Regions from separate parts of the Homo sapiens genome. Here regions 1, 3 and 4 are each reported to be linked to region 2. Evidence: microRNA targets listed by miRTarBase, many of them from high-throughput screens and not tested one by one. Region 2 holds a microRNA gene; each other region holds the end of a gene's coding sequence.
What was found. Region 2 holds the annotated microRNA hsa-miR-6808-5p (CAGGCAGGGAGGUGGGACCAUG, at 4,993-5,014, opposite strand). A microRNA usually pairs through its seed, bases 2 to 8, with sites in the 3' UTR of a target mRNA and lowers its output. Matches are read on the target gene's strand: a 7mer-m8 pairs with bases 2 to 8, a 7mer-A1 pairs with bases 2 to 7 and ends in A, and an 8mer does both.

Region 1 (7,118 bases), not on the chromosome of region 2:
GGATATCTGTATTTCTCTAGGTTTAATGAAGCCACAAACAACCAACTTTTTATTGACTGATACTGGAGATTTTTTGCTTTTAACTTGATGCATTTTAATTTGTGCTTAACTAGTTCTCGCACCATACCAGATCCTCAGATTGGCACTTTAGAGATGATTAGCTAAGTGTTCCTCTGTGTTAGCCACAGGGTCTAGGAAAGATAAGGAGAATCAATAGGACCAAGCCAGTTTATGATGAGAAAATTCATTCTCCATCAACGGTGTTGGCCAACTCATCATGCTGCCTGTTCTGAGAAGAAGCAGCTCTGCTCATGTTTCTGTGTGCCTCATTAATGTGTCAGTGGTTCTGCCCTGGCTGTCAAATGACTTTACTGTTGTGTTTTTTTAGTTTTCAGGACTTTATCTCCTGTCTTTCTTCACCATCCTCATTGGGCTGGTGCTCTACTCCTCCACCTCCACCTACATAGCCCAGGACCCCCGAGTGTATAAGCAGTTCCGCAATCCTTCAGGACCTGTTGTGGACTTACCGACCACAGCTCAGGTGGAACCCTCAGTCACCTACACCAGCCTGGGCCAGGAGACCGAAGAGGAGCCTCATGTTCGTGTGGCCTAGGGTGAGGCCCGCCCTGCCAACTGAGGCCAACTCATTGGCCATGTTTTTGCCCATCATCTCTGTATTGTACATAGAGAAAGGTATTTACTAGGTGCAGTTTACACAGGTGGACTGCAAGGTAGCAAATCCTCCAAAAGCTTGTGAAAGGAACAAGCTCAACATCACTGGAGACACAGGCTCTAATCCACCTGACTTGGAAGGATGCCTAGCTAACGTGTATCCTGATCACAACTCCCCTGCATTCATTACTGTGAAAATTTTTGAATCAAAAGCAAGTATTATTGTTATTATGATTTGTATTATTATTATTGCTGTTACTGTTATTACACCAACTTTCAGGAGGATGTTTTGTACTCCTGATGGAAACTATTGCCAGACCCACATGTAGTCAACATAAACCCCACTTTTCTATGGCAATTCACTTTTTAAGAGTCATACTTTATTTTTTTGCACAGACTATATGAGTGATGCATGCCACAGGAGCTCCACCCCTGAGAAGTTTCCTTTTCCTAGGGACCTGGTGGTTAATGGTTTCCTCTGTTACCTGTTGGATTGCCTGCTCAATAAGTATTTTGTGCTGTGACCTTTGTGGGGAGGGGCAACTGACCATATACTTCTCTATTCTAGGAATAGATATAAAAGAAACATTTTAGCCTTTTTATATTTCGATCTCTGATTACTCCAGGCCATTGCCTTTCTGTTGTGCCACGTGATTCTGCTAATCAAGTCCCTGTAATAACAGGATAAGGACTGTTCCATTACTGTGGCTTTTGGGAGCCCCCAGAAATAATATCATTTGTGTTTAGGACAATATATAATTATAAAATCTTTCTGCTCCTCCCTGTAGCCTCTCTTCAAAAACTATCTTTTATTTTTTTTCCAGATTTCCTTAGTGATAATATGGAAATTAATCAAGGCACTGGAAAAAGCCATGGTCCTCTGCCCTTTTAATTCTGTGACACCTTTTTAAAAATACACCAGCATGGAAATTACCTTTATTGTGGAAAATCATTGGTTGTGCCACCTCCTAACAAAGTCAAGGTGCTGATGTGGAGCAGTCTTTGAAAATGGCTTAATTGATTTGGCCACTTTGCAGTGGTAACAATGTCATCATTGAAAAAGTCTGGCATTTTGGTCATATTTGGCATCCATTCAATAACAGATATATTGACACGACATTCTTTTTTTTTTTTTTTTTTTTTTTTGAGACGGAGTCTCACTCTGTCGCCCAGGCTGGAGTGCGGTGGCACGATCTCAGCTCACTGCAACCTCCGCCTCCGGGATTCACACCATTCTCCTGCCTCAGCCTCCCGAGTAGCTGGGACTACAGGCACCTGCCACGACGCCCAGCTAATTTTTTGTATTTTTAGTAGAGATGGGGTTTCACCGTGTTAGCCAGGATGGTCTCGATCTCCTGACCTCGTGATCCGCCCACCTTGGCCTCCCGAAGTGCTGGGATTACAGGCGTGAGCCACTGCGCCCGGCCGACACGACATTCTTATGGACCCAGAGAATACTGCAGGATCCTGATAAGACCTTGAGTGATATGTCACTAGTCTAATCTGTTGCCCTTAAAATAGCCCTTTTTTCAAACACAGGAAATTAAGAAACACCACAGACCTCTATTATTTAGAATAGATTCTATGTGTCAGTATGTGATGTACTCTTTTAGTTTGACTGACTTCAATACCATTCAAAAAGATCCTCAATGGAGTTACAGGGTTTATAGGGGAAAAATACATGTTTATGAGACATTGGGCAATTCAAATCAACATGTGTTACATAAGCAAGCAAAGCAAAACACCAGTGGGGTCTCTGGAAAGTAAAAGGACAGACTACAGTAGAAGGACTGATCCCAGAGTGCCTGTACAAGGCCTAAATCTGGCAGGCAAAAGCATCCCACACTGTCTGTCAGCACCCACATGGCCTTTTTGCCTGCCTTCTATAACGGGTAAGTGGACCTACCCTTGGAGATAGAGAAGAAAAATTATCTTCTCTGATATTCGGATGTAATGGTCATCTCAGTTCAGCCCCCTAGGAAACATGTTTTATTTTCCATGGGGAAAATATCAGCGTTAAAGCTCTATCAAATCAAAACAACTTTGCCAACATCTTCTCTCTGCTACCTTTTAAACCAATTAAATACCTTTCTCTGAATATTTTGTCCATTCAGATCCGAAGACCTTTAAAGACTGTGGTTTTATTTTTGTGTTTACATTCCTTTGGTTTGAATAATTTGCTTGATTTATTGCATTTTTAGTATTTATTTTAAGCCAGATGTTTTCATCTTTGATTCATTTTTATGACATTAATTTGTAGACACTTAGTAAAGTCTTATGAGAAGCAAGTGGATGAAATTATCTCCAAGTCCACTCAGTAGACTGGAGTTTTTTAAAAATATAAATTTCCAAAAAGTTTGCAATCAACAGATGGCTAAAGGTTGCCATCTGAATTATTTTATAGGATATTTTAATTGACTCCATTGTATGGAAACCAAGTGTGAATGTTAAGATGAATTTGCCGTATACCCTTTATCATTCGGTGTCCTTGTACTCAGACTTTCATGTCCCTGGGTGACCTCAATGTGTTGGTTTGTCTCCATTTAGAAAGGTTGATAATATATTGAATTGTTCAAGATCAGGAGTTCCAGACTGACCCTCCAGGAAAAAAAAAATCGCAAAGAACAAATTCTTTTTCTGTGTAAAAAACACTGATCCTTTGGGAATGGGGCGGGAAATGGGAGTAGGACAACATTAACTTTAGCTGTTTTAGTTTCTGAGATTTCATAACCTCAGTAGACACCAGCAAAATTTTCAGTTTCTAACTCCACCACCAATCTCTCCTCAATGAATAAGACTTTAGCAATTTATATAGAATTTGATCAGGTAAGAGCGAACCACAATTCTCCTGAACCCTGCTAGAGATTAAGTGGTGGTTCTCACTTCCTCAATGAAAACTTGCACTGGGGACAGCGCTTGCCTTGGTCAGACCTTCCCACATCTACATACTCTCAAATACATGACCAGGTGATCAAGCAATGGAAAAATTTGCACCACCGTGTCCCATGAAATTGTTTCAATGTTTAGTTTAGATATTGCTAACTTGTGCTATTAACCTTTTGACAAGCGTGTAGTATTGTTTGTTTTGGGTTTCTTTTTGATTTATAACTATTTAGTAGTCCCCAGCTAGCTACCAGTACAGATTTTACCCCATGGGTAGGATTCTATTGTTAAGCCACATAACAAAGCACACTAATTCTGACAACACTGCAAATGGAAAATACGAACCAAAAAAAAGTTACACCGATAAGTTCAACAAACTGTCCATTTTTGATATTTGCATGCTCCCCTATGGACTGGCTGTGGCAATGTAATGCCTGTATAATGTTTTCAAATAAAAATAAATGCTTTATGAAAGCACCGAATTCTTGGTTTTCTTTTGTGTTTGTCTGCACTATGACAACCGTGGAAGCAGCTCCCTTGGGATACTAGAAATAGCAACAAAAGTAGATGGCTGGGTACATGTCGAAATAAAAACCAGAAAGAAAATATTTCCAAATTAGGAAGGGCACAATTGGTCTCAGAAGTATAGTTTCAAAAGCCAAATTAAACATGTTCATAGTTTGCAAAGTTAATTATTTATCTGGGTACATAAGAACACTCTGGGGCTTCAAGCCCACATTTAAAACACATGTAAGACAATATAAATTTACCCCCAAGGAAAAGTTTCTCATAAAGAAGAAAGTTCTGTGTATGCTGGCCTTGGCACACAACAGACTTAACGGATGAGCATTCTTCCAGAGTGCAATGTTTATAAAGCAGAGATTGCTCAGATTTCTGCTCAGAACTTACACAGCATCTTATAATCATCCCTCCTCTACTAACTGCTGTCACTCCCCATAAGTACCTAGATTATAAATCTATCCCCATAAGTACCTAGATTATAAATACATTTACATGTTCTTGTCAGTTTTTGCAATCAGACCTCAAAAATTAAATGAGCCAAGAAGACTGTGTGTCTGAGTTATATATTAAGAATAATGTTTAAAGAAAAACATTCATTTTTCAGGAAAAAAGGAATTGTAGGACACTAAGTGCTTTATAAAGTGCTCTCAGGTTGAGATCCATCATGAGCTGCTTTTATAAATAGTTGGAATAGCATGTACTTAACATAAGTAATTTGCTTGAGAAATGTGACTCTCAGTTTAAATCAGTTTTTTTCCTTGAAAAAAATGTCAATCTTTCTCTAAAGTATTGTTTACTTCCATTTAGTAAGCTCTTTGATCAAAGATGAAATAAAGTTGAACTTCAGCCCAGCCTCTGTCCAAATGTGCAGCAATTCCAATTGATTGGGGCTCAGATTGTATATACAATAAATGTATGTCATGTTTCCCCAATGAATTAAGATTTGTTTTCTTAAGAGAAAGAACCGGGTTTCCTAAAGAACTTGAAAGTCCTTGCAATGGTAAGAGAAGGAAGCACTTGAGTGATTCTCATGACTATTAGCATGAGAGAAAAATAGAAACAAGTAAAATTCAGCAGGAAGGCTGTAATTTATTATATTGTCTTAATGTTCCACAAGAAAACAAATCGTAATGTCTAAAATAACAAGAGCTGAAATTAGATCCAGTTTATATATTTTCAGTGCCCAGCAAAACACCTTGCACATGGAAGGCACTCATACATCTTGTTTTAAGGGAATCAAGCTTCTAAACCATAAATACAAAGTACAAGGGTAAGATATTCTGTTACAAAATGTTCCTTTCTTCTTCTATTACTCTCGAGTACTTTTTTTTTTCTGTAAAATTCCTGCATCTTGGAAAGGAAGAAATCACCATGTCCACTTAAATGCACCCTTCTAGGGAATTTTTTACAATCGCTTACAATATTTGGCCTTTCAAATTCAGGCCTGAGGTATGAAATAACAAAGCAAAGTTTTGTTTTGTTTTCTCCTGCAAATAGTGTTTTGAATTTATAATATTCCTTCTTAGTTATATACACTGATCTTTCTTTTTTCCTTCTTCCTTTTTTCCTTGATTTCTTCTCTTTTTTTTTTTTTGTTTATTTTTCGTTCTTTCTTTTTTCTGCAAGCATAAACAGAGGGCTCACTATGAGCCATCTAGGCAGGTTCCTTTCATTCTCTATATGCTTAAAAAAAAGAAAAAGAAAAAACATTTAATTCAAAAAAAATTATAATACAGCTGGAAAGCCCTTCCCCTACCAGACGGCCTTTCATCAGTGCCTGAAAGGACAAACCATTGTGCATCACTTTTCAGACAAGTTGCCTCCAAACACTACTACAGCCTGATTAACAAGGGAAGCTAATGATCAGAGGGTGGAGGTCTCTGCGAATAGGCTCTAAGATTAGGGCCATCCATCTGGATGGACAAAGGCCTGGTGTGGACAAAACTAAAATCTGTAAAAGCATGCAAATGAGCTTGTTCACTGAGCCTCAGCATTAAAGCTGGGACCAATCCCATAACGCTTGAAGGATAATTTCAGGACAGATAAAGGTAAATATTACTTCACACAATGGAGAATAATCTTCCTGAACTCATTGCCTCAAACTGCTGGTATAGGTTAAAAATGTAAATGTTAGGTCACCTAATAGATGACAGAGCTACAAGGGGACATTAAGTGGGCCGAGTATGCAATTCATTATCCAATTGTTAACACTTTCAAAAGTGAAAGTGGGCACTCAGTAATGATGCCTGGACAACAGGTGTAGACGTGGTCCATCCCAGATGAACCTGCCTGTGTGGTCACTGGCTTTAAGAAATGCACTGGTCCAGCCCTCCCACTGGGAGGCCAGCAGCACAGTGGATTGCTACATCTTCCTGACACTAGCTGTCACTGTCTGCAGTAGAATAGCGGGGTGGAGGCAACCACCTGCTCACAATGGTGAGGGTGTTTGTGGATTCTTACTGCTGGAAAGCAGCACACTGGCCTCAGCCTGACTGTTCAGACCTCCTTCTTGGAATCATCTATGGCCAAGGTTGGTAGAGCAATGAGAGGAGTTCCAGTGGTGATATCTCAAGCATCTTCCCCACTGTTTCATTGCTAAATGTGTAAAAATGTAAAAAAGCAAGAAAGAAACAGGTGACCCTAAAAGAGGCAGTACTGCTGGAATTATTTAAAATTATTCATAAATTACAGTAAAAGCCTACACACCCATCCATTTCAAGAAATGCCAATGACAAATAAATGCCTGCATAAATGAATGCATAGCTCTCATGAGAGGGAGAAGTAGATTCCTAGGCACTGAAGAGTAGATGACTATGGCAGTCGATCAAAACCATCGTTCACTCAACTTTTTCCCAACAGGGTCCACAAATACCACTTCTGGAACTTTGGGCTAGTAGGTTGAAACATGGGGTGATAATGTCTATTTTTGTGCAAAGTTGGGTCTCATTAATGCCTTTCTTGGCCTTGTCTTTATAGGCAGGGAGAATTACTTTCATAGTAACCGAAGAGGTTTGATAAATTTTAAGTAATAGTAATAATTG
Region 2 (7,118 bases):
ACCAGGCCTGCCCAGGTAACCCAGACCCACTGTTCTGGAAAGAGGCCCGGAGGGCTCCCAGGGTACCCGCAACCCACACCGTGAGCTCAGGAAAAGGACGCAGGGAGGCCCCGGCCAGATGGCTGGAAGCCCAAATCAGGCCCTGCCGACCTGACCATGTCCCACCAGGGCCCCCATCCTGCACCCTGCCAGGCACCACAGCAGTGGGAGGCCAGGTGGGGGCACACAGGCATATGCCCAGGGCAGAGCCCGCCGAGGTAGGGGTGGCACCCAGCTTCCTACTCTGCCCTTTGCCCAGTGGGTAGACAGCATCATGACTGTCACCAGTACCAGGGACAGAGCCCAGGTGGGGTGGGGGCGGGGTCCAGCACCACGGCCAGCACCGACCACCAGGACCCCGGAGCCAGCACCATGGACAGAAAACTGCCCACCAGGATCTGACGCCAGCACGCCGCCAGGCCCACACAGGGTCTCCGGTCAGAGTCCCAGGGTCAGCTCCCAGCAGGGCCTAGGGGAGGCTGGACCAGCTCCCTGTGCCTCATTCCAAGGCAGCCCAGCCGGAGAGAAGGGGCACAGGCCACACATCTGTCCCATAAAATTAAACGCTTTTTAGTGTTTAAAATAAGCAGCATTTACACAGAAGCAGCTCTATGTTAACCATCTAAACGCTGGGACTTTGATACAGTATCTACAGCACAGACACGTGGGGGCCAGAGAAGCCAGGAAGGCCGCGATGTGTGCGCGCAGTGTGTGCACTCACCAAGGACGGGCCACCTGACTGCCCATCTCCCCAAGACCTCCCTCCCTGTGGCAGCTGTGCACATCGGGGCCCCTTGACCCTGCGGGCCATGGTCCCTCCCTGCCCTGGCTGGGACACGGTGGGCAGGATGTCCAGCCCTCTCTCGTCTTCCGGTCCCGTCCTCCACGTACTTTCAGACTGTTGCCGGATGGGAGGAGAGAAGGTGCAGGCTGCTCCAAGGGGCAGCAGCAGGTGGGACAGATGACAGGGTCGCCTCCTCCCCCGAGTCACCGGCCAGGCAATAAATAAATAAATTAGATCCCTACTCCAGACAGGGGGCCTGTGCACCGCAGGGGGTTGCCCCGCATGGACCACCCTGGGGGCCTGGGCACAGCTGTGCAGGAGGTGGGGGTCAGCCGAGAGCCCGAGGGGGTCTTCCTCATCCCAGGAGGGATCCCCACCAGACACAAGGGGTTGGGAGGTCCGAGGCTCTCGCTGAGGGGCAGAGAGGGAGCGCCCCCAACACGGCTGCTCAGACACAGGTGCTGTCAGGAGCTGGAGCAGCCAGGCTGCCAGGGCAGATGGTGGTGGTCCAGCCTGCCCCCCACCCTGCCTCCCGTCCTGGCCCCCACGAAGGCAAGCCCACGCGAGCTCTGCATGCGGCAGGACCGCCAGCTCCCCACCTCAGGCAGGGCTGGGGCATGCGCCACGAGTCACATGATGTCCACGAAGAACTCGCAGGGGTTCCCCATAGCCTTCTGGAAGGACTGGCGGCTGCCTGTCAATTCCGGGGGGACGGCAGCCAGCTCCCGGACAGGGGGTCCCCCGGGTGGCCCCCCCACCACTGTATAGGCCTTGGTCGTGGGGTGGGGCGGGGGGAGCCCCGGGGCGGTAGCCGAGGCCTGACTGCGTGGGCTGCTGCCACGGCTGAGCTGGCCGGCCGGACGCTCTCGCCAGCTGCTCCCCACCCCACTCGGTGCCGTGTGATCCGATTCACTGCCACTGCCCCCAGCTCCCGCCGCCCGACGCTCCTTCTCACGGCCCGGGGCCCGGCGGCTGCTCCGGGTGGACCCACTGCTTTTGCTCCCTGGGAGTGAGAACAGGATGGGGAAGGAGCCTGTCAGCACCAGGCCCGGCCACGTCCAGAACAACCGCCCCCGCCAGGTGACCGGGCAGGAACGGTGGCCCGTGCAGGACGGGTGGGTGGGGCAGCCATGCAGGCGCGAGGACAGGGCCGGCACCCCCAGGGTCGCAGGGGCAGCTGCGGCAGGCATGGGCTGGTGGGGGCAGTGGGAGGCAGGCAGGGTCCTGGGGCAAGCTGGGCGCCCCCACACCTCACCCCGATGCTTGAGCTGAGGGCCTGGTCTTGCGGCTGAAAGACTGAGGTGCCAGCGAGGGCCCCTCATGCCCGGTGCCCCCGTGGCCATCCTGGATTCCCCACCCAAGGCCCCACTGTCCCCCCGGCCCAGGACCCTGGCCGACGGATGACTCAGCTCAGCCCTGTCCTGGGCTCCCAAGACGCAGTGGGAGCTGGAGGGCGTGGCTGGCTGGGGACATGCTGAGGGACCCCGGGCGGGACCCTGGCTTACCGGCCCAAGGTCCGCTCCGCTAGTCCTTCAGTCTAAGGCTTGTTTAGCACAAGACAAGGGATAGCACGAGTTACACGCCCGGCTGCCTGGCACCTGCCCAGCACCCACCCGCCACCAGTGGGGACTGACCGCGGGCTGGGCGGGGCTGAAGTGGGCGCAAGCGCCGGTCGAGGGTCAGTAGACACCCAGCGTGGCTTCTCTGCGGTCCCACACCCTCTGGCCGCCTCTCCTCTCTCGCCCTCCTTCCTGGGCCCTCCACGAAGCCACCTGCACCCCTCCCTGGCCTGCAGACGCCCCTGCTGGCCTCACCAACCCCACCCACTGGGGCCTCTGCTCCACCAGGCAACACCTCAGGAACACTCTGGATCCCCGGCCCCTAAACACACCCCAGCCAGGGGCACAAGGCTAGGATGCACGGCACCATCCACGTCAGGCTCCCTACCCGGGCTGCAGCTGCCACCCTCCTGTGTCCTGGGGCCTAGAAAGTGACCCTGTCAGACTCCTTGGCCACCCCTGCCCTGTCCTTGTCACATGGCCCATGGCCACATGGTCTCAGGGCCTCCTGCCTCTACCATAGGAGAACCACCAGCCGCCACCCCTACCAGGCACAGCCGCCCAGGCCGCCAGGCTCCTGGAGGCCCCTCATCCCAATCCCACCCAGATGAGGTGGGGTCCAGGCTGCCCCTGTGTGAGACGCTTCCCTGTCCTCCCCATTCACACTGGCTCCTGGATCCCCCTGGCACTTGCCTTTTCCAGAAGGAGCCCACCCAGGGCCCAAGTACACAGCAGGAGCATGGGATTGGGGTCAGCAGAGAAGCAGGGCGGAGCAGCAGCGGGGTGGGGTGGAGCTGGGGGTGGAGCAGCAGCGGGGTGGGGTGGAACTGGGGGCGGAGCAGCAGTGGAGTGGGGCGGAGCTGGGGGCGGAGCCGGGGAAGGGCAGGTAGGGGCGGCGTTCTCACCTTCACTCTGCTGACTCCCGGTGCTGCCGCTGCCATAGCTAAAGCCCGGGTCCTGGTAGGCAGGCGGGAAGCAGGGTGGGGGTCCCGGGTACTGGTAGGGGTAGCCCTGACCCAGAGGCCAGGGGGCAGCCGGGTGGGGCAGCGGGGCCAGCGTGTCCTGATCCGAAGTCCCACTGGAGCCACTGTTGAGGTTCAGGGTGGCGAGATCTGGCGGGGGAGGGTAGGTGAGGGCCGCGGAGGGGCCTCCGGCGTTCCCCTCCCCCCCGCCCTGAAGCCCGAAGCCCCCACTCACTGCTGCAGAGATCCCCGAAGACGTAGTAGCACTGCTCGGAGAAGGTGATCTTGTTGACCGTGTGCCGCAGGAAGCCGTGCTTCAGCAAGCTGCTGGCGTACTTCCGGGCCTCCCGCCGCTCCTTGAAGCCCTCCACGTGTGTGTACAGCCAGTCCACCACGTCCGCCCCTGGCCGGCACCAGCGGTCAGCCCGCAGCCTCGAGGCAAGCAGCCCTGCCCCTGGCACTATCCGCCCGCGGGGACGGCCACTCACCGATGACGGCATTGGCGATGGTGATCTTGAGCCACATGCGGTCGCGGATCTCCAGTCCCGAGTCTGGCAGCTGCATGACCCGGACGACGGCGCTCATGTCACTCTTCACCGTCAGCGGCGCCTCTTCCAGCTCTGCAAAGCACAGACAGCCCCGCTTCAGCCCCAGCATCTGAAGGCGGGGGACTCAGGGCCCTGCACCCCCAGGGGAGCCTCTGGGCAGAGCCTGCGCCAGGGCGCAAGCTGGACGGTGCGTGACAGCAGGGCCCCGGCCCACTGCAGGATGCACCCCCGTGAGGCTGGGGCGTGAGCAGGGGGGTTGGACATTTAGTCTCCCACTTCTACAGACACTTTTCATCAGGATCCTAGGCACAAACTGGGCTGACACCCCACCCTGCAGACCAGGAAGTAATGAGAACAGGGCAGGCCCCTTCCCCTCCCCGCATGCCCCACCCGAGAGCGCAGGCTGTTAGTCGTGTTAATGGCAGGAAGCAGAATGGAGACCTGGCCCCTGCCTCTGACGCCGTGGGTGCTCCCCGCATAGGGGCCCTACGTACATCCCCTGTTCCCAACACACAGACCATGAGCAGGATGGGCTGCACAAGGTGGGCACGGGTGCCTGTGCACACGTCTGTGCAGGGAGTTGGGGACAGGCAACACACACGTGTCACAGCCCCATGACGGCCACAGGCGGCCATGCTGGAGGCTGGCAGAGACGCCCCCTCCAAGCCTCGGTTTCTGCTGGGGCCCTCAGGAGCTGCCACTTACGTGGAGCACCAGGCACGGAGCTGGTTAGTGAGGAGGAGCTGGTGCGCGTGACGGCGCTGGAGCAGGGACTCGTACCGTAGCGGGGCAGGGCTCCTGTCAGTGCCGCCGTGTGGGACAGCCAGGCGGCGGGGTCGATGGGCCGCACCGGGTCAGCTGGGTGGCCGCCACGTGGCGATGACAGGCGGACAGATGGACAGGGTGGGAGGGCAGGGTGCAGGGCACAGAGGAGAGAGGCCTTCAGGCTAGGTAGGCGCCCCCTCCCCATCCCGCCCCGTGTGCCCCGAGGGCCACTCACCCCGTGGGACGGTGAAGTAGCTTCGGGGCGTTGGGTCCCAGCACTTGGCCACAGTGAGGCTGATGGGCCTGCAGGAACGGTGGTCACACAGCAAGGCCCCCATGGTCCCACCTCCCTGCCTGGCCCCTCCCGCTCCAGCGCCCCCAGCCCTCACCCCGTCTGGGAAACGATCTCCCGCAGCACCCGCACGGCATCGTCATTGCTCATGTTCTCAAAGTTCACGTCATTCACCTGCAGGGGTGGGGATTAGGGTGGTGCAGGCAGGATGTGCAGCTCAGTCCACCGCCCCCGCAGACCCACCCACAGCCGCATGTCCCCCAGCAGCCCCCGCAGACCCACCCGCAGCCGCATGTCCCCCAGCAGCCCCTACAGACCCACCCGCAGCCGCACGTCACCCCAAAGTCCCCACGGACCCACCCGCAGCTACATGTCACCCCGCAGCCCCCACAGACACACCTGCAGCAACATGTCGCCGGGCTCGATGCGGCCGTCAGCGGCCACAGCCCCGCCCTTCATGATGGAGCCAATGTAGATGCCGCCGTCTCCACGGTCGTTGCTCTGCCCCACGATGCTGATGCCCAGAAAGTGATGTCTTTCTGCAGGAAGAGCCATGAGCCGCGGCCAAGCCCCTGCCCCTGCCCCCAACCCTCGCCCCGAGGCCTCACCCATGTTGAGCGTGACAGTGACGATGTTGAGGGACATGGTGGAGTCGGTTATGCTGCTGAAGGAGGAGGCCTATGGAGGAGAGGGGGCGTGTGTAAAAGGCACGGGGCTGCCCGACACTGACTTCGCCTCCCCAGCCCCGCCCTGCTCCACCCGGCTGCCTACCCGGTCCGCCTGCCGAAGGCGCTGCTTCCTCCGCCGGCGTTTGTGCTTCCGGATGAGTCTGGATGAGGTGCTCTGCTCCGTGGAGCTGCTGAGCCTGGGAACAGACTGTCAGAGCTCAGAGGAGCTGGAGACATGGGTAGGGGGGTGGGAACCCGCTCCCCCAATACTGAGTGGGAATCGGGGGTCTAGGCCAGGCTTGTTCCAAAGCAGGCTCAGTGCCTGACGTCCACGCCCCAGGCCCTGCACACGTGATATGCATATGAGCACACACGAAAATCCCAGAGACAGGCAAACTGGGCACAGACACATGTAGCCAGATCCACTACTGACACACCTGCACACATGCACACCTGCACACACATGCACACCTGCACACACGCACCCCTGCACAAGGCACACATGCACACACCTGCACACACACCTGCACACACGCAACCCTGCACACATGCACCCCTGCGCACAGGCACACATGCACACCCCTGCACACGCACGCATGAACACACGCACACCTGCACACGCATGCACACCTGCACACACGCACCCCTGCACACTACACACCTGCACAGGCACACATGCACACCTGCATACTCACCTGCACACGCACCCCTGCACAATGCACCCCTGCACACACGCACCCCTGCACACACATGCACACCTGCACACACGCACCCCTGCACACAGGCACACCTGCACACACCTGCACACGCACGCCTGCACATGCACACCTGCACGCACACCTTCACATACACCTGTACAAGCACACCTGCACACACGCACATCTGCACACGCACACCTGCACACACGCACACGCACACATGCACACACCTGCGCACACGCGTGCATTGTGAAAACGCTCACGTGCACACTGTGAAAACGCACCTCACACACACATACATGCACACACAGACATGCGCATCATGTACATAAACGTTTGCACACAGGTACATGCACAGACACATCCGCAATGTGAAAACGCCTCACACAGACACACATGCACAAGCAGACACGTGCATCATGTACACGTTTGCACGCGGGCACACACACAGGCGCGCACACACGTGCACAGTGAAAACACCTCATGTGGAACACGTGCACAAGCACACGTGCATCATGTACACAGACATTTGCAGGCACACACATGCACACACACGCACACACGTGCAATGTGAAAACACCTCATGCAGACACATGCACATCATGTACAGACATTTGCAAGTGGGCACACAGGCATACACGCCCACAGACACTCCCACACACCTGCTCGTGCTGCCATCCTCGTCCGAGTCCACAAAGCTGCTGGACTCAAGCTCGCTGCTGAGGGCGGTGGACGCGCTGTCTGGGGGCAGCCCCACATCCCGCCGTCGGTCTCCCCTTGGGTGCCCATTGGTCCGGGCGGCT
Region 3 (7,118 bases), not on the chromosome of region 2:
GCCCCCAAGTGGGCATCCAGAGTGGCCCTAGCCCCACAGCTTGTATCACCCCAGAAGCTCAACAGCCACAGCTAAGTGTCACCCAATTTCATATTCCAGGGTGAGAGAATCTGATTGGGCCGGCTGGGCTTAGGTGTCCACACCTGGTCCAGTTGGCTGTGGTCAGAGGCAGGGATATGCCCCATTGCCCACAGTCAGTGACCATGGTGAGGGCAGCCTCTCTGAGAGAGGCATGGCCAGAACAGGCAAATTTCCAGAAACTTCCACCTGGGTGATAGGTGAGGGTGGCCTGTGGGATAGGAGAGGATGTGAAAATGGGTGACCCAAACTGAAGCCCGGGAAGGCAGCTGAGGGGCCTCGGGCGGGCACTCGGCCTCCCTTCTCTGTCCCTGCAGTTGTCCTGGTCGTGGTGTTTGGCATCTGCTGGGCCCCGTTCCACGCCGACCGCGTCATGTGGAGCGTCGTGTCACAGTGGACAGATGGCCTGCACCTGGCCTTCCAGCACGTGCACGTCATCTCCGGCATCTTCTTCTACCTGGGCTCGGCGGCCAACCCCGTGCTCTATAGCCTCATGTCCAGCCGCTTCCGAGAGACCTTCCAGGAGGCCCTGTGCCTCGGGGCCTGCTGCCATCGCCTCAGACCCCGCCACAGCTCCCACAGCCTCAGCAGGATGACCACAGGCAGCACCCTGTGTGATGTGGGCTCCCTGGGCAGCTGGGTCCACCCCCTGGCTGGGAACGATGGCCCAGAGGCGCAGCAAGAGACCGATCCATCCTGAGTGGAGCCTTAAAGTGGCTTCACCTGGAGGGGCCAGAGGGTCACCTGGAGCTGGGGAGACACATCTGCCTTCCTCTGCAGGGATGCCTTCACGTACTGTCCCTAGTTCAGCCTAGAAATTCTGACCAGCACCTCAGTTTCCCTCAGAGGGAAACAGCAGGAGGAGGGATCCCTGACTGCTGAGGACTCACACTGACCAGACGCCACACCTTGTGCTTCTTATCTGTCCACTGCCACTCCCCCAGTTCAAATCCTTACCCTGCAGAAATATCACAGTTAGCTGGGGCTCAGCAGTCCTCCCTCTGGGGACTCCCTGCCACCACTGCCAGTTTCTGAAACGGTCCCACTGGGTCCTCACTGTCCTTCCCAGTTCCTGTTCAGGTTCTGGCAGGGGCCCAGGGATCCAGGGGACCTGGTTCCAATCTCAGCCCTGCTGTCACCACCTTGTCATGCACCATCAAGCATATCAGTCTACCTTTCTTTTTTTCTGAGACAGAGTCTCACTCTGTCGCCCAGGCTAGAGTGCAGTGGCGCGATTTTGGCTCACTGCAACCTCCGCCTCCGGGGTTCAAGCGATTCTCCTGCCTCAGCCTCCCGAGTAGCTGGGACTACAGGTGAGCCCCAGCATGCCCAGCTAATTTTTTTTAATTTTTAGTAGAGACGGGGTTTCACCATGTTGGCCAGGCTGGTCTCAAACTCTTGACCTCAGGTGATCCGCCGACCTCGGCCTCCCAAAGTCCTCGGATTACAGGCATGAGCCACCACACCCGGCCAATCAGTCCACCTTTCTAGGCCTTGGTTCCTTGCCTGAAAAATGAAAGAGGCGCTGGCTTTCCACAGTGTCATGCTTTGGCACTTTAGCTATGGTTTTCTTTCTGTGTGTGTGTAAGCCACTGCTTATAATAAAACCAACAATACCCTCAGACTGAAAGGGCGGAAGTTATTATCTGCATCTTTATCAACCCCAAGCCCCACTTCCTCCCTGACCTCCCCATGCCCTCCCCAGCCTCTCCCAGCACAAGTGGGGCAAAGCCAGCATGCAAGCAGACCCCACCACCACAGCCCACCTCCGTCCTCACATACGTGCAGGCTGGCTCGGGAGTCCAGTGAGCAGAGCATTGGACTTGGCTGGCCAGAGGGTCTCTGAGGGCAAGAGACATGGCCAACCAAGGGCAAGGAGTGACCCTGTGGAGGGTTCTGCCGAACTCAATGCAGTGAGAAGAGGGACAGGGACAAGTAGTCCTTGAAACTGAGCCCCATTCTGAATCCCTGCAGGCCAAGTCATTGCTCAGCCAGGACTCAGTTCATGGAGGAAACTTGTCCTGCTGCAGTCCCTGAGTCTTGTCCTCCTGAGAGGAAGCCCTGGCTTCCAAGGCTGGGAGCTGGAGGATGACCTTCGGTCGGTCTGTCTGGGTTCTCCCTGCAGACAGCTTCCTAGCTCATGCCCATAGCTCATGCTCCCTGCCGAGAAAGTGGAGGACGTGGTACAGGGTTGCAGATGTTTAGTTTTAAAAATTCAATTATAAAAATAATAAATGCTCATGATAGAAAATTTGGAAAGTGCAAATAAGCAAAAATGAAAACAATTTTAAAAATGTAAAACCTCTCTTGCCAGGGAATGGGGGAAGGGCAAGTGAGGAGTTCTTTAATGGGTGAAGAGTTTCAGTTTTGCAAAATGAAAAAGTTCTGGAGATCAGTTGTGCAACAATATGAATATACATAACAATACTGAACTATACACTGAAATGGTTAAGATGGTACATTTTATGTTATGTGTATTTTACCACAATTTTTATAAAAAGAGGATTAAATCTAAAGGAAAGAAAAAATTAAAACCACCCATAACTTTACTCTGAAGCAGTAACAGTGGCATGTTTCCTCCTAGTGATGTGTCATATGGTGGTTTTATTTTATATACACAATACACATAGACAATTTTGTATCTGGCCTTTTGTCCAGTGGATGTTCTATCCAAGCTCACGCTTGCACTCATTTGACTCATGGGATCCACTCTGATGGGCCTTGGCCAGCCCTGGGGGAGTAGGACTTGCATAAACCATCTGGGTGAATTCCCAGATGCTGGCCAGGAAGGCCTGGATGCCCCCTGCCTACTAAGTCCCTGGCTCGGGGGAGGAAGAGCCGTCCTGCCTGTCAGTCCTGCCCAGTGGACAAGTTCTGGGAGAAGCACAGGGGCTCCCGGACAGAGAGCAACAGAGGCTGGGGGTGGGGAGTGGGGACACTGAGGACAATGGGAGAAAATGGGAGAAGTGGGGACCTCGTGGAGGCCAGAGAGTGGATGAGGGAGCTGAGGGGAGGCTGGTTGGCGGAGGTGGTTTCCTCAGTGGGGGGCCCTGAGCCTGCCCTGACTTGAATGCACAGTCAAGCCCTGAGTGGGGACAGCTCCTAAGAAGTGGGCCTTGGGGGAGGGTGGGGGATAGGGGAGGGGAGTGACTGCAGGGACAGGGAGATTCTGCAGAGAAAGGAGCCTGTGAAAAGCTGTGCAGAGCCGTGAGCACCTGAGTGCTGCCCCTGAGCTCCCAGGGAAGTAGCCTTGGGGTGGGAGGGGGAGATGCCGGATCCCAAACTGCAGGCTGGACCCTGAAGTTGTTTCTCAAGACCAGCTCTGGACTCCCAGAGGCCTGCTTCAACCACAGTCAGAGGCACCTCATGCTCGAGGCACCCTGGACAGCATTATGAAGGGCCTCCATGTGCAGGCAGCAAGCAGACGGGCAGTGGGGTTGTTAGAAGGGTGCCCTCTGGGCCGGGCATGGTGGCTCATGCCTGTAATCCCAGCTCTTCGGGAAGCCAAGGCAGGTGGATCACCTGAGCTCAGGAGTTCAAGACCAGTCTAGGCAACATGGTGAAACCCCCGTCTCTACAATACACACACACAAAAAGTAGCCAGGTGTGGTGGCATACACCTGTGGTCCCAGCTACTTGGAAGGCTGAGGTGGGAAAATCACCTGAGCCCAGGAGGTCGAGGCTGCAGTAAGCCAAAATTGTGCTACTGTACTCCAGCCTGGGCAAATTGGAGTGAGGCCCTGTCTCAAAAAAAAAAAAAAAAAAAAAAGAGAAAAAAAAAGAAGGGTGCCCCTTTGTGAGCACCATGTATGTCTCCGCAGCACGTCAGCAACAGGTCCTGTCAGTCACTGGTTCCCATGGAAAACGGGAATAGCAGATCTGAACTCACCCCTTGAGAAACAGGGATGGCAATGGAAAGGGCAGAAGCAAGACCTGGCAAAAACACCGGTCATGCTGGGGCTGCATTCTCCTTGGTCCCCAGTGCTACTCCCAGGTCAGGAGGCCTCCATGCTTCTCAAAGTATCTAGCTCATCTGGGGCTCAAGTCACCTCCCCTTCCGACTGAGGTCACCATATCCCTCCTCCTCCTGTGGAGTTCAGGCCCTTTCTACTTCCCCTCTTCTCCACTCCTGCTGCTTTCCTGGGTGACGTCAGAGTCCATGGGTGACCCCACTGCTGCTCTGGGTGCCAGCTACTGATGGTTCCTGCAGCTCTGGAGACCCCACCCCAGTCTCCTAGCCCCTTGGTCACATCCTCACTCCCTGTGCCTCCAGGTGCTCTCCCATTTCAGAAAGTGTGAGCTCTTGACTGCTACTGCCTCTATCCTGCTCTCTGCTCCTATGACACATTTATTCTTTTATTTTTGTTTGAGATGGGGTCTTGCTTGGTCACCCAGACAGGAGTGCAGTGGCACAAACATGACTCACTGCAGCAGTCAACCTGCTGGCCTCAAGCAATCCTCCCACCTCAGCCTCTCAAGTAGGACCACAGGTACACATCACCATGCCTGGCTAATTGTTTTTCTTGTGTTGTAGAGGCACCGTCTCGCCATGTTGCCCAGGCTGGTTTGAAACTCCTGGGCTCAAGCAATCTGCCCACCGTTGGCCTCTTAAAGTACTGGGATTACAGGCGGGAGCCACTGCATCCGGCCATATTTATTCTTTAACCTCATCTAGACTTCCAGGTTCTAGACGGCTTTCTCCCAATCCATCAGCCTCCTCTGAGCTTCACTTCTTTTCTGATCCCACCATCAGTTCATCTACCCTACTCTGCCAGCGTTCCTGAGGGTGAGTACACTGGAATAATTCTTCCCTTCTCAGAAAAAGGCTTAATTTCCTTGAAAATTGAAAGTCCAAGATTAGTCTCATCAACAAACAAAGCTGCATATGCCTACCCTTCCTTCTGTTAGGCATCTACTCAGCAAAGGTAAAGTGTGTAGCACTACACATCTGTTCTCTTCATTACCAGGTGGCATTTCCAGATCATTCCTGGCATCTGGGAGCCTATCTCATTTTTGTACACTTCTCCAAGTCTTCCCCTTTCCCTATTCTTGTCTTCTAATGGATCCATCAGGTTCTTGTTCCAAATTTCTTTGTAGCGTGCTGGCTTCAGCAGCACATATACCAAATTTCCTTGTAGAGAGGAGTTGCCTTGTGGGGGAGAGGGGGCACACCCTAGCATTTGAACTCCTTTCTTATTGGGGGGAATCTCTCATTGTGTGACTCAGTGGAAGACTAAGCCCAGTCTCCCACTTACAGGGGTGAAAGAGTTCTGGACACTCTCCACTGCTGACATCTATTGGTACATGATGGACCAAGCCAGCTGGGTGACCCAACGTGGGACCTGTATCTGGAGCAAGTGACACTAAGACGCACAACAACAGGGGCAGGCGTGTCCAGGGGCAGCAGCACTGACAGCAGTATCCTGCCCAGTCTGTCTTGGGTTCCGCCCTTTTTCTCAGCCAGTTTTTCCTGCCTTCCTGTTGATATTTGAGCTACTGAGAGCATTTCAATAAGTTCTTTTTCTGCTGAAGTTGGCTGGAGTCATTTGCAACCAAGAACCTTAACTGATCTATCCACTGGCTTGAAGGTTACACATTCTGTTTGTTCTACTAGCAGTTATCTTTACAGTTTCTAAGATTAGCAAATATTATTGATTTCTTTTAAACTGCAAACTATAGTCTGTAATATTCTGTAATTATTCTAATCCCCCTCCTCCTCCTGGCAGGAAAAATGAGGACAGATTTCAGAATTTGATCCTAGAAACATACGTACACTATTTTATTTTATTTTATCTTATCTTCTTATCTTATTTTATAGAGACAGGGTCTCACTATGTTGCCCAGGCTGGTCTTGAATTCCTGGGCTCAAATGATCCTCCTGCCTTGGCCTCCCAAAGTGCTGGGATTACAGGCAAGAGCCACTGCGCCTGACTCATACTTACATTTTTCTAACAGTCTAAACCTCTTCAGCACAAGAAAAGAACCCCAGTGTGCTTCTAACACACTGTGAGTTAGTAGAGTGGAGTGTGGAGGTGGTGAGCAAGGACTCTCTGGTTGGGCTGCCCAGCTGTGACTCCTGGTTCTGCTGCTAATTATCCTTACATGTCAGAATGACCTAAGGCCAAAGTCAGACTGGACTGAGAGGTACTGACATTTCTAAAGAAAGAATGTACAATCTGCCTGCACACAAATGAGACTCAGAGGCAAACACTGACAGTCTGCAACATCGTTCCAAATGGTGTCCAGGTTTCTAAATCTACAAGGTGTAGTCTGAGGATGGTGGTGACTCTCTAAAGTAAATGTTCTTTCTGTGGCCCCTTCAAGGCAATACCCCAACCTAACATTCAAGTTTCTGCACAAGGCAGGGCAGGAAAACTGGGGACTGGGCAGGATCAAAGGCCTGACGCATAGGTGCGGGACAGTGGGGACTCAGGGAAGGCGAACTTGGGTAAGTGCGCCCTGGTCAATAAGAAGAGGCCATGGGCTGGAATTAGACTGGAGAGCCTGGAAGCTGCAGCCACATCCTATGGAACATCCACAAGAGTTTCTGGAATCTTTTAATCTAACATTCAAGCCCCTTCTTCAGCTCTAAGCAACACAGGCATCATTCATCCAACATTTATTGAGCACCAACCATGTGCCAGGCACTTTTCAAGGCTGAGGCGGGGTGAAGGAGAGGGCAGATAAACATACTGGCATATAAGTGCTTTGACAGCTGGAACTCAGGCATCGAAGAGAGGCACCTGCCCCAGCCGAGGGAAGGCTTCCAGGAGGAGGTGATGCGCCCAAGTCCTGGGGAGAAGGGTCTGACTGGCCCCTGAGCTTTGGCCAGGGAAGCAGTTCCACCAAAACTGAATCAGGGGAGGAGGTGGAGAGCCTAAAGGGAATGAGGGATGTCAGGAGGCAGAATGAACACTGGACAGGCACACACAAAAGCAAAGCAACTGAGGTCCACTATCATCACTGCTGGCGCGTGGACTTCCCTGGCCACCCTTCCTGGAACTTGGACTTGGAACCTTCCCTCCAGTCTTTCTCCCTGT
Region 4 (7,118 bases), not on the chromosome of region 2:
GGCACCTCGGGCCATCGGCTCTCAAGGGATGTGGTTAACAACAGTTGGACTGTGCTATTTGTAGTTAATGACAGTTTGTCCATCCAGTCATTGAGTACCACTGACAAAAATAAATAATTCTGATACCAGTGCAGGCTGTGATAATTAGAACCAACTCATGGAGACTTATATTCTTAAAAGTAATGTCTAAAATTTGAAATTATAGAATAAAATAACCATTTAAAGCATTTACTATTTTTAATCATTTACCTGTTAGAAATCAAAGTGAGGATATAAAGGATAAATGTTACAATTGTTTGTTTATAACTATTAAGTTTTTTTCTTTAACCAGGTTTCACAATTCATAATATATTTAATTATAATCCAGTTAATAAACTATGTTTGCTTTATGTATATATCCTCTGAAGGTATTCAAACCAAAGAGATTTTTTATTTCCTAATTTTCTTTTTAAAGTACACCTGTCATATTTTCTCTGGGCTCAAGTCACTCTATTTAGGTGAAAGAGGAACTGAGGTTTCTTTATGCTTCCCTCAAATCATTTTATTATCAAAAATCATTCTTTGTTATTGTCTGCATTTTATGTATGGTGTTATAGTCAAACTAGAAATGAAAAAGATAGGAGAAGCTAGTGTAGCAATTTTATAGGGCTTGGTATAAGATTTCACATATCTACTAGTTCACTGAAAGTATTGTCTATGTACTGTTTTCTTAAAGTCCAGATAAATTGCCTATCAGATGATGTTCATCAAAACGTTAGAATCAAAGTTCTCAATGCCTCAAGCATAAGCAGAAACTAACATGGTAATTTAATTATTGCAGGTGGGCCTTGTGCACATCATGACCAGTTTTGAAGATGCTGACACAGAAGAGACAGTAACTTGTCTCCAGATGACGGTTTACCATCCTGGCCAGTTGCAGTGTGGAATATTTCAGTCAATAAGTTTTAACAGAGAGAAACTCCCTTCCAGCGAAGTGGTGAAATTTGGCCGAAATTCCAACATCTGTCATTATACTTTTCAGGACAAACAGGTTTCCCGAGTTCAGTTTTCTCTGCAGCTGTTTAAAAAATTCAACAGCTCAGTTCTCTCCTTTGAAATAAAAAATATGAGTAAAAAGACCAATCTGATCGTGGACAGCAGAGAGCTGGGCTACCTAAATAAAATGGACCTGCCATACAGGTGCATGGTCAGATTCGGAGAGTATCAGTTTCTGATGGAGAAGGAAGATGGCGAGTCATTGGAATTTTTTGAGACTCAATTTATTTTATCTCCAAGATCACTCTTGCAAGAAAACAACTGGCCACCACACAGGCCCATACCGGAGTATGGCACTTATTCGCTCTGCTCCTCCCAAAGCAGTTCTCCGACAGAAATGGATGAAAATGAGTCATGAACACAGAAAGTCTAAGAGGAGAAATATGATGGATGAAGAGCTCTGTAGATGCTGTATAGACACTAAATAAGAGTTGATTAGGGTAGTATATTATAGTCATCTGTTATGCTGTGAAATTTGGAATTCAGTATTATCATTTTGAAGTCTGTAAATTGTGTTAGTCATTAACTTAGTCACCTGTTGTATTCTGGATCTACACAAAATTATTTTAACTGCTCTTATTAATCTGTGAGGATTAATATACAAAAAGTATCCTTTGAGATGAAGTCGTGTTCTCAAAATAAGGTTATATTATTTTCTTTTTCTGCTTGATTTTCATCTTGTGTTTTGCTTTGTTTTTGTAAGGAACCATCTCTTGGTTTGGTCACATCAGTTCACAACAGCCATTTGTTTTCAAGGTCAAGGCTCCAGGCAGGTTGTTACTGGTGTTTGCAGCCTGTCAGTACTTGCAGTACTGGAATAGGTTCTAGGCTAGTGTCTGCGCGTCACTGTGGTTTTAGCATGGGAGGACTTATTTGAGAAATACTACCTTACTTTTCTATGATTTCTTTTTACAGAGTTATAGTGTGTTTACTCCTAAGATGACAGTTCTCTTTGTCTATATTCAGCATCTAAGACAAATATTTAAACATTTTAAAGAACCACTGTGTTAAGTTTAGGATTATTTACTTACCAAATTAGAAGTTTGACTTTTATGTGTTATACACAATCTTAAAATTTCACGAATTCACCTTTTTAATAGTATCCATGTACATAATAAAATCAAAGTTTAATTAGCCATTTTCTTTGAATTTTTTTCTAAATAAGGGAAATAACTGTTCTTGGGCCACTTTACAGAGATAAATGTATGTGAATGTTTATGATAAACGCTTAAATATTTCTAAAATATTAACTTCAAAAAAGTCTTTTTCAGTTCTTAAATAAAAATTTATTTATTTAAGATACTTATTCGACTTATCTTAACTAAGGTAGCTATGAATGTTAAGTAGATGAGGTAACCATTCAGTTAAGTTAAATTGTAGCATTGCCAGGTAGTGAGGCTCACTGTACAATTTTCCAGGTAAATGAAATTTCCTGTAGTAAGAGGTCCGTATTTTTGTAACAGCCTTTTAAAAATGCTTTTGGGAACCCTCCAGCCTCTTACCAAAAGAGGCTTTAAACCTCATCTTGATTCAGACTGTCAGTCTATTCCTGGGCAGTAGTATGTGATGTCCAGCACCCTAACCCCGACTCCCCAGCCCTGGGACTATTCCAGTAGAGTGAAATATTTGTCCCTGTACAAAGTGGCCTGAATGACTGTTGGAGTTCCTGTGTCTGGTTTTCCTGTTTATTCCCTGTGATGCCCAGAGTAATGGCCCATCCAAAGATGTCCAGATGTCCATGTGCTAGTCTCCAGAACTTGTAACTGTGTTGTTATGTGGCAAAGGGGAATGAAGGCTGCAGATGGAAGTAAAATAGATTATGCTGGATTATCTGGGTGTGCCCAATTGATCACCGGATCCGTAAAAGTGGAAGAGAGGCAGATCAGGATGTCAGCGTGATGAGGTGTGAGACAGACTTGACTTGCTGTTGCTGGGAGGAAGGGGAGGTCATGAGCCAAGGAATGTGGACAGTCTCTTGAAGCTGGAAAGTGTGCATTGGACATCTGGAAGCCAGAAAAGACAAAGAAATATCCAGAAAGGAACAAAGTCTTGTGGACACCTTGATTTTGGTCCAGTGAGAATATGTTTGACTTGTTAACCTACAAAACTTTATGATGATAAATTTGTGTTGGTCGTAAGCCACTAAATCACAGTAATTTGTTATAGCAGCAGATAGAAAACTAATATACTCCCTTTAATATAAGGTTATCTACTATTGATTCTTTCTAGGATTTTAGCTTCTGGTCTGATGTGGGTTTACAGCCAGATCACCCGGCTTGAATTGCTTACAGTGTGTAGTCTCATGGTAAAGGCGTTCTATGAGTGAAGTGTATATACTTTAATGTGTGTATACTGTCACATTTTGACTATTTTGGAAGACTTTCACCTCTGTTTCTTGTCTTTGAGGCTGATGAATGTGTTTCTAAGTTATAAATTTAATATTAAGGGATTCATGTATTATTGTTATTGAATCCAAACAATGTGTTAAGTAATATTTAGGGCCAGAAAAATCTTGTACAGAATAATGATTTCTCCTAATGTAAATCTTGGAAAGGGTTTTGTTCAACTTGAGAAATATTAAATTTTTTATTCTATTTTCTTTTCTTCAAAGATTGGCAAAGGAGAGAGTGGGTTGCTAAAAGTTTATATTGTTCTCCAAAGAATAGAAACACTTTCCATAGCCCAACTCCGGTAGTAAATAATAATGAACGCTTTAATAATGAAAGAGCAATTGGTTAGTATTAGAATTGTTTTGATTACAAAGTTAGCATCTCTGCCTGAGCTACCCAACCCCAAAGCGGGGTTGTTAGAGGAAAGCTACCATATTTCATAGAACCGAGGAAGGAATGCAGCAGACCTCAGGTGAGATTCGAATGCTCTGGCTCTGACCCTCAATGCATATTGGCTCCATGGCCACCTGTAGCTCCCAAGTTTTACACGTTATTGATCCCCCAAAGAGACCTGATCTCTTGATTTCAGTTCCAGGGACGGGTCAGCTTGGGTCAGGTGCCCACCCCTTCACCAATCAACTTGTCTCAGGTAACGCAGTCACATTATATAATGGCTGCTCTGGTCAGTGATCATGTGGATAGATACAGCATTTTCTCAAAAAAATGGTCACAGGGGTGGGGGTGGGGCAAACAAAAATATTGGTGTTTGATACAAGGTACTGAAGCTAAGATGTGAAACCTTCCATATACACTTTAAGGACTTCTTTGTCCCTGGAAAGTGATTTTTCTGGGGCTCCTTAGGTAGAGAGGTGTATTAATGGTGCCAGTGTTAGAATCCTTGGCAGTCTCTTCTTGAACCTGCAACTCCAGTGGTTAAATCTCATAGGCCATATAACCATTTTCTAGAGAATTCTGTTCCTACTATCTAATGCAGTAACTGACTTAAAAGTAAGTATTACTGTTAGACTCTAACATAAGTGGTGGTATTTGTTTTAATGGAGGTGGGATCAGGTATGTGTTCACTTAAGCTTTACATTAAAAAAAAATTTATATGTGTAAATAAATATATATGCCTTGTAGAAAAATTAGCCATAATCTTACTACCAGAAGAGAACTACTGTTAACTTTGTGTGTGTGTATATGTGGTGGATGGTTTTATGTTACCTCCTGGCTCTTTTTATGTTTCCAATTCTCTAACACTTGTTTAATTAATTACTTATATTATTAAGATAACAGGCTTTGTTATTATTTTACTAAGTGGACCATGATTGAAACTATCAGTCTCCATTTCAGGTGGTGACCAAGATGAGCCCTACGACAAGTGGGTGGAATTTAATAGGTTTCTAGTTGGTATGGGTTGTCCTCAGATCCAACCTATTCAACCTACATGAAAATACTTATTTGTCCTTTACCTCTTAAGCAATGAACTTAGGGCTGGGAGCACTGGTGAAGAAACTGGGATGGCATTAGGTTCAGCTCTGTTGCTGGTTTCATAATTTTGTTGCTGATGGAAGGCTACCAAGGGACTAGAGATGAACCAGTTTGGCCCTGCTTAGTGGCAACAGTAAAATAACTGCTTGAAGGCCCAAATCAAGACAGTGACTTTTTTTTTTTTTTTTAGACTACTCAAGTGCAGTAGTCAGAAGGGGGGAAAAGAGTAGAACAAGAAATTCAATCTGTAACTGACTATGAACAATCAACTGAGCTAATTCAACAGTGACATTTTAAAACAGAAAACTTCTGAGATTAGACAGTCACAATAAGGTGTGACAATGAAATTTCCCCTTAGTTCACAGTACCTTTTTATAATAATATCACTTTCGGCATCTTGAAAGTTTTTTAATCCTTCAAAGTTAGGTTAGACACATTCTTTTTTTTTTTGAGTCAGAGTTTCGCTCTTGTTGCCCAGGCTAGAGTGCAATGGCGCGATCTCGGCTCACTACAACCTCTGCCTCCCGGGTTCAAGCAATTCTCCTGCCTCAGCCTCCAGAGTAGCTAGGATTACAGGCATGCTCCACCACGCCTGGCTAATTTTGTATTTTTAGTAGAGATGGGATTTCTCCGTGTTGGTCAGGCTGCTCTTGAACTCCTGACCTCAGGTGATCTGCCTGTCTTGGCCTCCCAAAGTGCTGGGATTACAGGCATGAGCCACCGCACCCGCCCAGGTTAGACACATTCTTTTTAATAGCTAAGCAAAAAAATCCCCTGAAGCCCCCAAAACTCTGAAAACAATACTGACCTAATTTCTACCGGAAAGAATTGTACAGTGTTGAGTGTGGGCTCTGAGTCATACTGCTTGGGTTTATCTACCATTCCTGTAATTTGACATAACTCAGATTCCTTTTTTGAAAAACAAGGATTAAATAGTGCCTCCTTCATAGGGTCTCTGTGAATATCAGAGATAAAGTATGTAGTCTCCTTACCACAGCATTTACACACAGTACCTGCTCCTCTGAGTAGCATGGGGCAGAGTTAGGTCCTCATTTTTAATGGTCTCATATAAGATTTCTGAACTACAGAGGACATTACTATATCTGGGTAGGAGGAAATAAATCTTTAAATTTGAAATAATAATATACAATTTTAAATATCATTTTCCAAATTTAATTTCATTTTCACCTTTAATATTTCCTAAGGATTCAAGAATCAGATGCAGGGATTCTGTTTCTCTCCATTTTTATTGTTATTGTTGTTGTTGTTTTACATTTAGGATTTCAATGTGGAATCTCAGATTTCTTTTGTGAACTCCTTTACTGTCAGACAATTAACCAGAAATACCAAATAAATGAAGATGGGAAAACACTACATATTTAACATAAAATCTTTTTTAGATGTCTGTATTCTCAAGAAATTATGATTAGGACATGTTTACATAGTTAAACGAAACCTCTGGCCTCTGCTAGAAAAATATATTTATCTATTGAAAAAAAAGCGGGCATAATTCCAAAATATATCATTTCAAAAGTTCTAGTGTTACCAGTGGTGAGTATGGGCACGCTCCATAGTCCTTGATCTTTGTCTTCTTGGGAGAAAGAATTCAGCCAAGAGACAGAATTATATTTAAGGCAGAAACAAGAGTTTATTGAAGCAAAAAAAAGTACACTTGGATGGAACGAAGGGGGACGTCAAAAGATTGAGTACCCAGCTTGACCTTTGTCTTAGGGCTCTTAGAGATTTATTATTTCCTATTTTTTTCCCCATCTCTTCCCTCCCTGTATGTGCAGTGGTTTGCCAGTATCTGGAAGGGCCTTTTGGTGATTGAAGTTATGCACATGCTCTCTTAGGGCAATTTTCCCTTACTGGGCTAGCACTCCCGGCCAAGCCCCATGGGAAGGTCATATATTTGTCAAACTCTGTCATTTTGCCCCTTACTGCGCATGTCTGGTCATGCCCCCAGAGGAAGGCCAAACTCTGCCATCTTAAATTCTTATTGGGAAGTTGTTGCCCATGAGCTCAAGATGTCTCCTGTTAGATTTTCCCTTCCCTGTCACCAGCCCTCACAGTCTTTGTGGCGCTGTCCTGCCCTGTTCATATCTGCCTATCTACTCTAAAGCTAGTATCTTTTAAATAAAAACCCTTCTATAACTCCACATCCCCTTCCAGCTACCCCATTTCTCTGCTCTCTTTTCAAAT

Region 1: miRTarBase lists SLC35F1 as a target of hsa-miR-6808-5p. Seed matches in the 3' UTR shown: 7mer-m8 at 1,910-1,916 and 7mer-m8 at 2,548-2,554.
Region 3: miRTarBase lists NMUR1 as a target of hsa-miR-6808-5p. Seed matches in the 3' UTR shown: 7mer-m8 at 1,358-1,364.
Region 4: miRTarBase lists TIFA as a target of hsa-miR-6808-5p. The part of its 3' UTR that is shown has no 7-base or 8-base seed match.

Annotation. Positions count from the first base shown.
Region 1 is chr6:118,313,640-118,320,757 of GRCh38, forward strand. It overlaps SLC35F1 (solute carrier family 35 member F1), which reads left to right. Exons shown (of 8, transcript NM_001029858.4): 8 at 389-4,032. The coding sequence ends at 613. Among named protein-coding and RNA genes, the nearest start is that of PLN, 230 kb to the right of the region's middle.
Region 2 is chr1:1,334,690-1,341,807 of GRCh38, forward strand. It overlaps MIR6808 (microRNA 6808), which reads right to left and starts at 5,019; the gene lies at 4,961-5,019. TAS1R3 (taste 1 receptor member 3) reads left to right here. Exons shown (of 6, transcript NM_152228.3): 6 at 1-625. DVL1 (dishevelled segment polarity protein 1) reads right to left here. Exons shown (of 15, transcript NM_001330311.2): 5 at 6,978-7,116; 6 at 5,721-5,814; 7 at 5,558-5,627; 8 at 5,349-5,488; 9 at 5,047-5,123; 10 at 4,893-4,960; 11 at 4,598-4,750; 12 at 3,833-3,964; 13 at 3,580-3,747; 14 at 3,288-3,494; 15 at 589-1,826. The coding sequence ends at 1,453. RefSeq lists a silencer at 3,255-3,314.
Region 3 is chr2:231,518,703-231,525,820 of GRCh38, reverse strand. NMUR1 (neuromedin U receptor 1) reads left to right here. Exons shown (of 3, transcript NM_006056.5): 3 at 396-2,634. The coding sequence ends at 778. Among named protein-coding and RNA genes, the nearest start is that of LINC00471, 7.9 kb to the right of the region's middle.
Region 4 is chr4:112,272,137-112,279,254 of GRCh38, reverse strand. TIFA (TRAF interacting protein with forkhead associated domain) reads left to right here. Exons shown (of 2, transcript NM_052864.3): 2 at 821-4,718. The coding sequence starts at 839. The coding sequence ends at 1,393. It overlaps AP1AR (adaptor related protein complex 1 associated regulatory protein), which reads right to left. Exons shown (of 10, transcript NM_018569.6): 10 at 6,145-7,118. Among named protein-coding and RNA genes, the nearest start is that of TIFA, 10 kb to the left of the region's middle.